Linked DNA regions of Homo sapiens. The protein of the gene in region 2 interacts with the protein of the main gene of each other region in a biochemical or structural test. Each region holds a gene or a part of one and is shown on either strand. Other genes may lie near its edges. The genes, in order: CCRL2, PDZRN4 and EVI5.

What was found.
Region 1: the proteins of PDZRN4 (region 2) and CCRL2 interact in a test that uses a peptide from one of them, tested with the Homo sapiens proteins (one large-scale study listed by IntAct).
Region 3: the proteins of PDZRN4 (region 2) and EVI5 interact in a test that uses a peptide from one of them, tested with the Homo sapiens proteins (one large-scale study listed by IntAct).

Annotation. Positions count from the first base shown.
Region 1 is NC_000003.12:46,405,612-46,409,365, forward strand, and holds the start of CCRL2 (C-C chemokine receptor-like 2), read left to right. Parts: upstream 1-1,647; 5' UTR 1,648-1,891; intron 1,892-2,003; exon of another isoform or gene 2,004-2,059; coding exon of another isoform or gene 2,060-2,083; intron 2,084-2,456; coding exon of another isoform or gene 2,457-2,468; coding exon 2,469-3,503; 3' UTR 3,504-3,754. UniProt on the Homo sapiens protein: Receptor for CCL19 and chemerin/RARRES2.
Region 2 is NC_000012.12:41,191,268-41,194,921, forward strand, and holds part of PDZRN4 (PDZ domain-containing RING finger protein 4), read left to right. Parts: intron 1-190; coding exon 191-277; intron 278-2,813; coding exon 2,814-2,921; intron 2,922-3,654.
Region 3 is NC_000001.11:92,512,498-92,516,151, reverse strand, and holds part of EVI5 (ecotropic viral integration site 5 protein homolog), read left to right. Parts: intron 1-1,107; coding exon of another isoform or gene 1,108-1,206; intron 1,207-2,181; coding exon 2,182-2,496; 3' UTR 2,497-3,654. UniProt on the Homo sapiens protein: Functions as a regulator of cell cycle progression by stabilizing the FBXO5 protein and promoting cyclin-A accumulation during interphase. May play a role in cytokinesis.

The DNA.
Region 1 (3,754 bases), on a different chromosome or scaffold from region 2:
GTGTCCCAGGGCACCATGACCCCCACTCACTCACTCACAGGAGACCCACACAAGAGAGGAGAGGGCACTTACAGCTTAGGTTCCCACCAGCACCAACTCCTCTGCCATCAAACATCATTGTGTTTCTCTTTCTGCCTTGTCTGTCGGCACACGTGGAGTTAAATTTAATGCTCAATCACATATTTGTCTGGGCTCTTTCTGTGTTTATTTTTCTCTTAATAGTTCTCTCTCCTCCCTTCCTCTCCCCGCCCCTCCTCCTCCTTCTTCTTTTTTTTTTCCAGAGACAGTGTCTCGCTCTGCCACCCAGGCCAGAGTGCAGAGTGGCATGATCATGGCTCACCGCAGCCTCCAACTCCTGGGCTCACGTGAACATCCCACCTTGGCCTCTGGAATGTCTGGGATTACAGGCACTTGCCACTGCATCTGGCTAATTTTTATATTGTTTATAGATCCGGGATCTCACTATGTTGCCCAGGCTGGCCTCAAACTCCTGGGCTCAAGCGACCCTCCCACCTCATACTTCTGAGTAGCTGGGGCTGTAGGAATGCGCCTCAGTGCCAGGCTAGTTTCTTAATTTTCTATTTCTATTTTGACAGGTACAAATTTTGTATTCAATCCTACCTCAGACACATCTTTGGTGGGAAAAGGATGTCATTTAATCAATATATAAATTCTAAGCAAATAGGTCTGATCCCCAAATTAGGTTAGTCACAGCTGCTGAGTCGTTGACCCAAGAGAAGCTCATCTAGATTTTTTCATTATTTTCAAGTTCCTCTTCTCGGTTCGTCCTTCTTCCAGACCGTGCCCTCCCCGTCCCACTCTCTTCCCACAGCCTCCCCTCCCCACAGCCTCCTCCCACCATTCCAAATCTGGGCTGTTCTCTCAATTTCCTTCTCTCTGGACTCAAACCTACCCTAGCCCCCAGCCTCAGTTTGGGGTTAAACTTGTCCTCCTCACATTCTCTCCCACCCAACTTGATGTCGCCTCTGTGTCATCACCACGGGATTTTCCTCCTCTGGGTTCTCCTTTTCCGAGTGGGGTCAGCTCCCCCATGAGTCACAGCACCAATCACTTCTGGCTGCTTGCAAACCCCTTTGCTTTCCTCAGTGTTGACACCCAGGGCAGCCCTATGCTCACTGCCGCTGAGACCCCACCTCTGCCCCTGGCCTTTTCCCAGCTGACATCACCCTGTGGCTTCCATTTTCCTAAAATTCTCTTTTGAGGCCTCAGTCTTAACCAAAGCACACAGTGCCCCTCAAAAATGACAATAAAAACCCAAACACACCGTGACTGTCATGGCAGGTTCCTGGTCCCCGTATTGAATCAGCGGGTGGGTTTCTGCGAACACTGGTGAGAGGCCGCATTAGAGGGTCAGGACCCTCAGGTCTGGACTCGTGGTCACCACATACCTTCCTCCCTGCTGACAGTAGCTGGTACCTGTTACCTACTCAGAGTGTCACATGCCACAAGCCAGAGCGTCTTGGCAGTTCTCAGCACCTTGACATCACTTCCTTGCTACCACTCAGAGCGGCAGTGACACAGTTCCCTTATCTCAGAAGGCCAGAAGACGGCTGTCAAAGGTCACAGGGAAATCAAAGGCGGGGTACAGGGCCAGAGGGAGGAGGAAACAACTTCCCGGTTGCTTTCAGACGCTTCAGAGATCCTCTGGAGGCCTGGGGGAGCTTTTGAGTACTTTATTTCAGTTGGTCCCTGAGCTCGGTGAGTGGGGCGGGTAGAGCCACCAGGGGAATCAACAGTGGTTTCTCGTGCCCCTCAGGGTCAGGAGCAGTCTGATCAAAAGGAGGGCATCCACTGTCCGGGGCCATTCCCACAGCTCCCGGATGCTGGGTCTGGAGGCTGCGCCCTTCCCCTGCAGGAGCTCAGCCCAGTGGTAAGTCATCTGTGTGTCATCTATGTATTTAACCCCTTATGGCCATGTTGATGCTGAGCATGGTTTCACTTTTGCAAACATTTATTTATACCCTTCGAGAGAAAAACGTCTCAGCTGTCACAGGAAGCTGCTTCGGGGGGTGAGCAAACTTTTTAAAATGCAGAAATTATGATCTACACCCGTTTCTTAAAAGTAAGCCATCGTACTTGGTTCTCTTTAATTATATATTTTCTTACATATTGTGTTCATGTAGGCAAGTCCTGTTTCTGCTAAAAGAAGGTAAGTTCTACCAAGGCGGTGTCATGCCAGCTTTATTTCCCGTGGCACCTGGCACACTGCTAAGCACTTACATGCTTAACAACTAGATTGGGAATGGTGCTGCTCTGGGGAAGTGGGCACACGTTAAAGAAATGTTTATTTCAGTCTTCTGAAATAGGGAATTACTCTGGCTAAAATGTAGCTCCAGAAAGGGAAAGTGGGGCTGTATGAATCCAGGTCCAGTTTGTTGTTTCCTCCAGGATAAGGCAGCTGTCGGAGGGGAAAATCATCTCCCATTTCTCCACAGGGCAGTCTGAAGATGGCCAATTACACGCTGGCACCAGAGGATGAATATGATGTCCTCATAGAAGGTGAACTGGAGAGCGATGAGGCAGAGCAATGTGACAAGTATGACGCCCAGGCACTCTCAGCCCAGCTGGTGCCATCACTCTGCTCTGCTGTGTTTGTGATCGGTGTCCTGGACAATCTCCTGGTTGTGCTTATCCTGGTAAAATATAAAGGACTCAAACGCGTGGAAAATATCTATCTTCTAAACTTGGCAGTTTCTAACTTGTGTTTCTTGCTTACCCTGCCCTTCTGGGCTCATGCTGGGGGCGATCCCATGTGTAAAATTCTCATTGGACTGTACTTCGTGGGCCTGTACAGTGAGACATTTTTCAATTGCCTTCTGACTGTGCAAAGGTACCTAGTGTTTTTGCACAAGGGAAACTTTTTCTCAGCCAGGAGGAGGGTGCCCTGTGGCATCATTACAAGTGTCCTGGCATGGGTAACAGCCATTCTGGCCACTTTGCCTGAATTCGTGGTTTATAAACCTCAGATGGAAGACCAGAAATACAAGTGTGCATTTAGCAGAACTCCCTTCCTGCCAGCTGATGAGACATTCTGGAAGCATTTTCTGACTTTAAAAATGAACATTTCGGTTCTTGTCCTCCCCCTATTTATTTTTACATTTCTCTATGTGCAAATGAGAAAAACACTAAGGTTCAGGGAGCAGAGGTATAGCCTTTTCAAGCTTGTTTTTGCCATAATGGTAGTCTTCCTTCTGATGTGGGCGCCCTACAATATTGCATTTTTCCTGTCCACTTTCAAAGAACACTTCTCCCTGAGTGACTGCAAGAGCAGCTACAATCTGGACAAAAGTGTTCACATCACTAAACTCATCGCCACCACCCACTGCTGCATCAACCCTCTCCTGTATGCGTTTCTTGATGGGACATTTAGCAAATACCTCTGCCGCTGTTTCCATCTGCGTAGTAACACCCCACTTCAACCCAGGGGGCAGTCTGCACAAGGCACATCGAGGGAAGAACCTGACCATTCCACCGAAGTGTAAACTAGCATCCACCAAATGCAAGAAGAATAAACATGGATTTTCATCTTTCTGCATTATTTCATGTAAATTTTCTACACATTTGTATACAAAATCGGATACAGGAAGAAAAGGGAGAGGTGAGCTAACATTTGCTAAGCACTGAATTTGTCTCAGGCACCGTGCAAGGCTCTTTACAAACGTGAGCTCCTTCGCCTCCTACCACTTGTCCATAGTGTGGATAGGACTAGTCTCATTTCTCTGAGAAGAAAACT
Region 2 (3,654 bases):
TTTTTCAAATACATACTTGCAAAGTAAGTATAGGAAAATGTCAACCTTCTGCCACATTCAACCATCCTTAATTTTAAAGTTTTCCTCTTTTCACATGTCAGTTAACTTACAGTACATAAAAACTTATTGTAGGATTTATTTTTCTTTTATATTTTTACCTGGTTAAGTCATTTTATACATTTTTTTCTAGGATGGAGAGCATAAGCCATTCACTATTGTGTTAGAAAGAGAAAATGACACTTTGGGATTCAATATTATAGGAGGTCGACCAAATCAGGTAAAACACCTTGTTAATGCATTACTCGTTACTTATAAAATAAGCATTAATAAGCATTACTCATTGCTTATAAAATAATAGAGGACTTAGCTTTTGTTTGTGGATTTTGAGTAAGAAAAACAAGTGGTTTAATCTTTAAAATTATACTTGTGATCAAATATCAGATTTCTTAATGCAAATATTCCAGTACATACCCAGATTTTATTTATTTATTTATTTATTTATTTATTTATTTATTTATTTTGTTTGTTTGTTTGAGACAGAGTCTTGCTCTGTTGCCCAGGCTAGAGTGCAGTGGCACGATCTCAGCTCACTGCAACCTCTTCCTCCTGGGTTCAAGCAATTCTCCTGCCTCAGCCTCCCAAATAGCTGGGATTACAGGCTCCTGCCACCACACCCGGCTAATTTTTTGTATTTTTAGTAGAGACAGGGTTTCACATGTTGGCCAGGCTCGTTTTGAACTCCTCACCCCAAGTGATCCACCTCACGGTCTCCCAAAGTGCTAGGATTACAGGTGTGAGCCACCATGCCTGGCTCTGATTTTATTATTTTTTAATTTTTAAAAATTATTTTCTTTTTGAGTTGGAGTATCACTCTGCAGCCCAGGCTGGAGTGCAGTAGCGTGATCTCAGCTCAATGCAACCACTGCCTCTGGTTCAATTGATTCTCCTGCCTCAACCACCCAAGTAGCTGGGATTATAGGCGTGTGCCACCACGCCCAGCTAATTTTTGTATTTGTAGCAGAGAAAATACAAAATGTTGGCAAAGCTGGTCTCGAACTCCTAATCTCAAGTGATCCACCTCCCTCACCTCCCAAAGTGCTGGGATTACAGGCTTGAGCCACTGCACCTGGCCTTTATTTTTGAGAAAAACAAAAAACAACAGCTAGCAAACTTGGTTCTCTTTGCTACTTTAAAAGAAGAAAAGGAAAGTACATTTCACATTTTATCTAAATTTTATTGTCCTTTTGGCAAATTTCTTGAATAAACCTATTTCACAATACCATGTGTAGGCAATTTCTATTTGATAATATTAGGCAATTGTATTGCCTGCTTAAACCTATTTATTAAGTGCAATTACTCAGTTTGAAGATGCTAATACAGACTAGGAAGAAAATTATATTGAATGAATGAATGAACAGTTGAAACAAGGGATGATTGATTTCAATAGGAAGTACCATGTTAAAGAAAAACAGTTGATTAGAAATATTTTTGGCTCCCCAAACCGAGTTCTTTGTTTGATTGCATGAATAATATTCTTCATGTTGATGTCAATTGTTTTCAAAATGCATATTTTAAACTTATAGAATATACTGTAGTTGCAAAGTTCTTTTATATCTTTGAATTCCTGTGTCAACTTAATTTTCACCGTAACTGGAAAAAGGTGGTTAAGTTTTAAAAAATGATGTTCTTTAATTTTTCTCAATAAACTGCCATGAAATTTTTGCATCCTGCATTGCAGATGTTGTACAAGGAAACTGTCTTAGTGTTGTTGGCCATATGCTCTGTTTAGGTAAGGATGGCAGTGACATATTTCTTCCTTGTTTTTAGTATTTTGAAAACTTAGCAACTAATGACTGCTGTGCTTCTCTTTTTAAAACAGTCCTCATTTATTAAGATGAAAGCCTTTTCATCATAGCATTTTCGTTATCATTTTCCCTAAGGAATATTTTTATAGATTCTATTTTGGTATTTGACATTTAGATGACATCGGGCCTTTTTAAAAAGTCTCTTAAAATTCATGATAAGGACAGCTAAAGAGAAATAATTTTATTTAACCTGTCATGAAGTCAAATGACATTTAAAATTATATAATGTATTATTATAGGATGTTGGATATTTTCCCCTAAATAAGCTTTGACTTCTTGTGACTGGCTAAAATGTCCTATTTTTACCATATTGGCTATGTTTGAGGTTTAACTAATCATGAGTCAGACTGCACCTGGAAATATGTAACGATGAGTTTGCATGGGTTCCCTTTTGCATAGGTTCCCTTGCAGTTTAGATGTGATCTTTTGGGATTTTACACTTGAGTAAGCTACCAGTGTCTCTTGTGAATAGACACAACTAGAGCTATGTTTCTAAATCTGGCACATCAAAAAGCTAAATTACATTTCTAAACTCTACCACATCTCAAACCAGTTATACAGTGGGAACCAGATATATGTTTTTTTCCTTCTTTAACCTTATCACCCTTTTACTTGCTGTCTCTCTTTAGAAGTGAGATGTTTTATAAATAATACTTAAAAGCCAGTTTATTTCACCTTGTACATGCCCTTTCCCATAGCTTTTTTATGTGAACTCAAAAATGTGAAGTAAATAGATAATCTTGTCAGAGACCCTGGACTCATTCATTAAAACTGCCACCTTGATTAATGACTAGTTGGTGTTAAGTAAGTTAAAATTCTGTTCCAAATCCCCAGCTAAGAGAGTTGCAGGTTTACAGAGGATTGGTAATGTTACATTTGGTAAATTGTCCCTAATAATATTTAAATTTTGCTTACATCTTTCTTCTGCTAATGATTTTTTAAAAATAGAATAATCAGGAAGGAACATCGACTGAAGGAATTTACGTTTCAAAAATTTTAGAAAATGGACCTGCTGACAGAGCAGATGGCCTGGAGATTCATGACAAAATCATGGAGGTAAGACAATGATAAAACATGTATATGATCCATGCAAGAAAGATTGGGATATTTTAAGTTTTCAAATTTACCACTTTACCTTGGTGTGGTGCTTATTAGAATATACATTCTTAGTAGCAGTAAAGGCATTATCATTTTTACTTTCTTACAAAAAATGTAAAAGTCACTGGGAGAGGTGGCTCATGCCTATAATCCCAGCACTTTTGGTGGCTGAGGCAGGAGCATCACGTGAGCTTAGGAGTTCGAGACCTGACTGGGCAACATTGTGAGACTTCATCTCTACCAAAAAACAAAACAAAAAAATTAGCTGGGCATGGTGGCACATACCTATGGTCCCAGCTACTCAGGAGGCTGAGGTGGGTGGATCACTCGATGTTAAACCCAGGAGGTCAAGGCTGTGGTGAGCTGTGTGTAGGCCACTGCTCTCTAGCCTAGGCAACAGAGCAAGACGCTGCCTCCAAAAAGAAGTAAAACTCTATTATGATTCTATATAATTCGTTAGATATTGTGATGAAAGAATAAAATGCCTGAAGTTTTCAAATGTGTTAATGAATACCTCTGTTTTAATAACCTGTGTTTCCCATGAACTATGATGTCACTTGCTTGATTATTAAAGGATTAATTATTATAACATTTCAAAAAAGGATGATAAATCTCTGTTGAGGAACATTTCTGATGAGGAACTATGATTATATTTTAAATTTGTAATTAATATTTTATATGTAGAGTTTGG
Region 3 (3,654 bases), on a different chromosome or scaffold from region 2:
CACTTGGAGCTATAAATTGTGTGTTGCAATATTGCGATAGGATGTTGCATCAGAACGTGGCAGTTGTAACAATGCAGTGGGTATCATAACCTTGAGGAGGCCTTTGTGGTGCTATATGCCCTTTTCCTAAAGATTCAACTCCAAGTATAGATCCCTCTGTTCTGCCAAGGAGAATGGTATTATTTAAATTACGTTGTACCTCACTATAAATTTGTCCACTTGGTCTAGGGCACAGGAATATAGTTGAAGGTCTGCTTGGGCCAGACATCATTGTTCTGAGTCCCTGCATCCCTGCTGATTCTTGTTGTCATATACAAGCAGGGAAGTGCTGAGGTTTCTTCACTTCTTCCTGGAAGTCTTTCAGGAAAGCTGGGAGGTATTATGGTGAGGCTGTAATGTCTTTATTCTCAGGACCGTTAGTTTTGAAAGTGTATGTAATATTTCCTGAATATTTCACATTGCCTTTATCTAAAGAATTGAAAGATTGTGACTAGGAGTTTGTCCCTGAGAAACAAGGATGAGGGTAGGAGACGTGGAGCATATTTTAGCAAGATTCTTAATAGTCAGAGTAGATATTTGGTAGCTAATTCTTGTTTTTGGTTTTGGTTTTTTACTCTTCCACTTTATTGTAGGAGAAAATTCATGGTGCATGAGAGAAATGAAATAAGTGACAGAATGTCAAAATCAAACTTTAAAACATAAACTCTTGAGGGCAGAGCTGATGACTTAATTGTATGTGAGTAGAACTGGTACTGTCATGGTTGTGGATTTGGGAGTTTGAGGAAACTTGAGCAAAGAAGTGGCAGATGATGAAAATAAATCAGTTTTAATTCTGATAAAACTGGTTTTGGAAAATGTGGTTTAGATTTAAATGTGGCACAATTTTTTCAATACTAAACTCTAGAATTAGTCAGACTTGCCCACCCAGTAACAGGTAGCTTTTGACCTCCTTAAGCCTCCTTATGTGAGGGTCTTGTACTATAAAACTCCAGGGATTGAGGACTAGAGCCTCATTCTAAAAGATGGGAAGAAAGGGAAAAGAGATGAGTGAGGCATACCATTCCTCTCTCCTCCTCCCCACTAAGAGAAGCCTCACCTTCTCCCCAGGGGGAGTTGGGGAGAGAAGGCAGAAATGTTATACCGGACTGGCACTCCCCCCATGCAGAAGGAAACCTCATGAGTGGGAAGCAGCATTCCTCTCCCACAGTAAGTGACGGTGATATGCTGGCCTTTGGGCTATTATAACAGGATGGAGACTCTTAGCAAAGTTTTAATGATTTATAAATCATTTTCATCATTTACAGAACTATGGAGACATTCTCTCAAGATAGTGTGTGTGATAGTATGGTTTTTAAGTTCATACCTTCTAGAAATACCAGCAAAATATTTACAGATAAACTGATAGGATGTCTGGGGTTTACCTCAAAATTATCCAGGAACAAGAGGTGTGTAATGTAAAAAGATTGTCCATGATGGGTGTTACTTGTTGAAATTAGGTGATGGGTACATGGAGTCCATTATATTATCTCTAGTATAATGAAGATTTAGTTTGAATCTAAACTTTGCTACTAGCTATATATGTCCTTAGCAAGTTACTCTTCCTGAGTCTCCATTTCCTAATCTGTAGAATGAGAAAAGTAAATACTAAAATCTATCACATAGGACGGTTGTTATTATTCAATTAAAGTAAGTTACAGGCCAGGTGTGGTGGCTCACACCTGTAATCCCAACACTTTGGGAGACTGAGGCAGGCAGATTGCTTGAGCCCAGGAGTTTGAGACCAGCCTGGGCAACATGGTGAAACCCCGTGTCTACAAAAAATACAAAAAAATTAGCCAGGCATGGTGACACACGCCTGTAGTCCCAGCTACTCAGGAGGCTGAGGTGGGAGAATCGCTTAAGCCTGGGAGGCGGAGGTTGCAGTGAGCCGAGATCGCACCACTGCACTCCAGCCTGGGTGACAAAGTGAGACTGAGACCTGTCTCAAAAAAAATAAAATAAAAATAATTATGAGCCCATTATATATAACACATAGAAGGCACTCAAAAATTAGTAACTATGATTATACCTGTAAATAGAAAAATAATAAGGCATCTTCTTCCTTAAACATGGAATGTTTGCTTTTTGGCGTGTGTGTGTTTCCCCCATTTGACTGTATTAACTTGGATTTTGTTTTAACAGCTCAGGTGCCTAAAAGGCCAGAGGGGCTTCTCAGGCCAACCTCCTTTTGATGGAATCCACATTGTCAACCATTTAATAGGAGATGATGAATCATTCCATTCCTCCGATGAAGATTTTATAGATAATTCCTTACAGGAAACTGGTGTTGGTTTTCCTTTGCACGGAAAATCTGGTTCGATGTCTTTGGACCCCGCAGTGGCAGATGGTAGTGAGAGCGAAACAGAAGACAGTGTGCTGGAGACCAGAGAGAGCAACCAAGTGGTTCAAAAGGAGCGGCCCCCGAGAAGAAGAGAGTCGTATTCAACCACTGTCTGACCATCACTGTGACCTAGACTATGGATTTATTTAAGGGATCAGTTATCATATGATTAGGGCTTTTTGGAAATAATTTGTTTCATATGTACATATATATATATATATATATATATATATATATATATATATATATATATATATATATTTTACAGTCTTATCTGCCTTTTTATCTTTGCCAAATCTTTACCACTGATTTACCATTGCCATAAAGTAGACTGGTATATGGTTAATGTGTAAAACAAGGTTCTAACAGTATTACTGAATATTAATGTTTCTTGTTTAGAAAATGCAACTATATCTATATGTGGGAACCATTCTGAAGTTCAAAACTATGGAAAATTGAATTTTCTTCAGACAAAACTGCTCTTGTGCAATATTTTATGCTCAGTGAGCAAATTGTGTATTTATGTTTATCAATTTGTTCTCAAGGTGGCTGTCTACAGACATTTGACCAAGACATACATCTGATTTACCTTGTGTTTTTTTTTTTATTGTTGTTTTTTTTTTTAAGACAGAGATTCAGTCTGTCACCCAGGCTGGAGTGCTGTGGTGTGATCTTAGCTCACTGCAACCTCCGCCTCCCAGGTTCAAGCAATTTTCCTGCCTCAGCCTCCCGAGTACCTGGGACTATATGTGCGCACCACCACGCCTGGCTAATTTTTTGTATTTTTAGTAGAGATGGGGTTTCACCATGTTGGCTGGGCTGGTCTCGAACTCCTAACCTCAAGTGATCCACCCGCCTCAGCCTCCCAAAGTGCTGGGATTACAGGTGTGAGCCACTGCACCCAGCCTACCTTGTCTGTTTGTGTCTGGGAGGTTTTTTTTTTCTATTTTTATTTTTTCATGAAAATTATTGGTGGGCCACTGAAAGTCCCCACACACAAAGCCTTTATTCTATATAATTTTATAAACACAAATTCATGATTATCTGTTTTGAGAGTTTTAAGTTTTGTTTTAATGTTTAACTTTTATGTGCATATGATGCTTCCATGTGTTGGTTACTAGAGTAGTAGGTTAACTACAGACATACTGTTTTGTTTGTACATATTTATAAATCTGTACCACCTAACATTGAACATCATTTTATATGAAGAACATACATGTTGCAAAATGACTGCTTTCAGCATCTAACAGGACTTCTGTAAATAATAGGTTAAA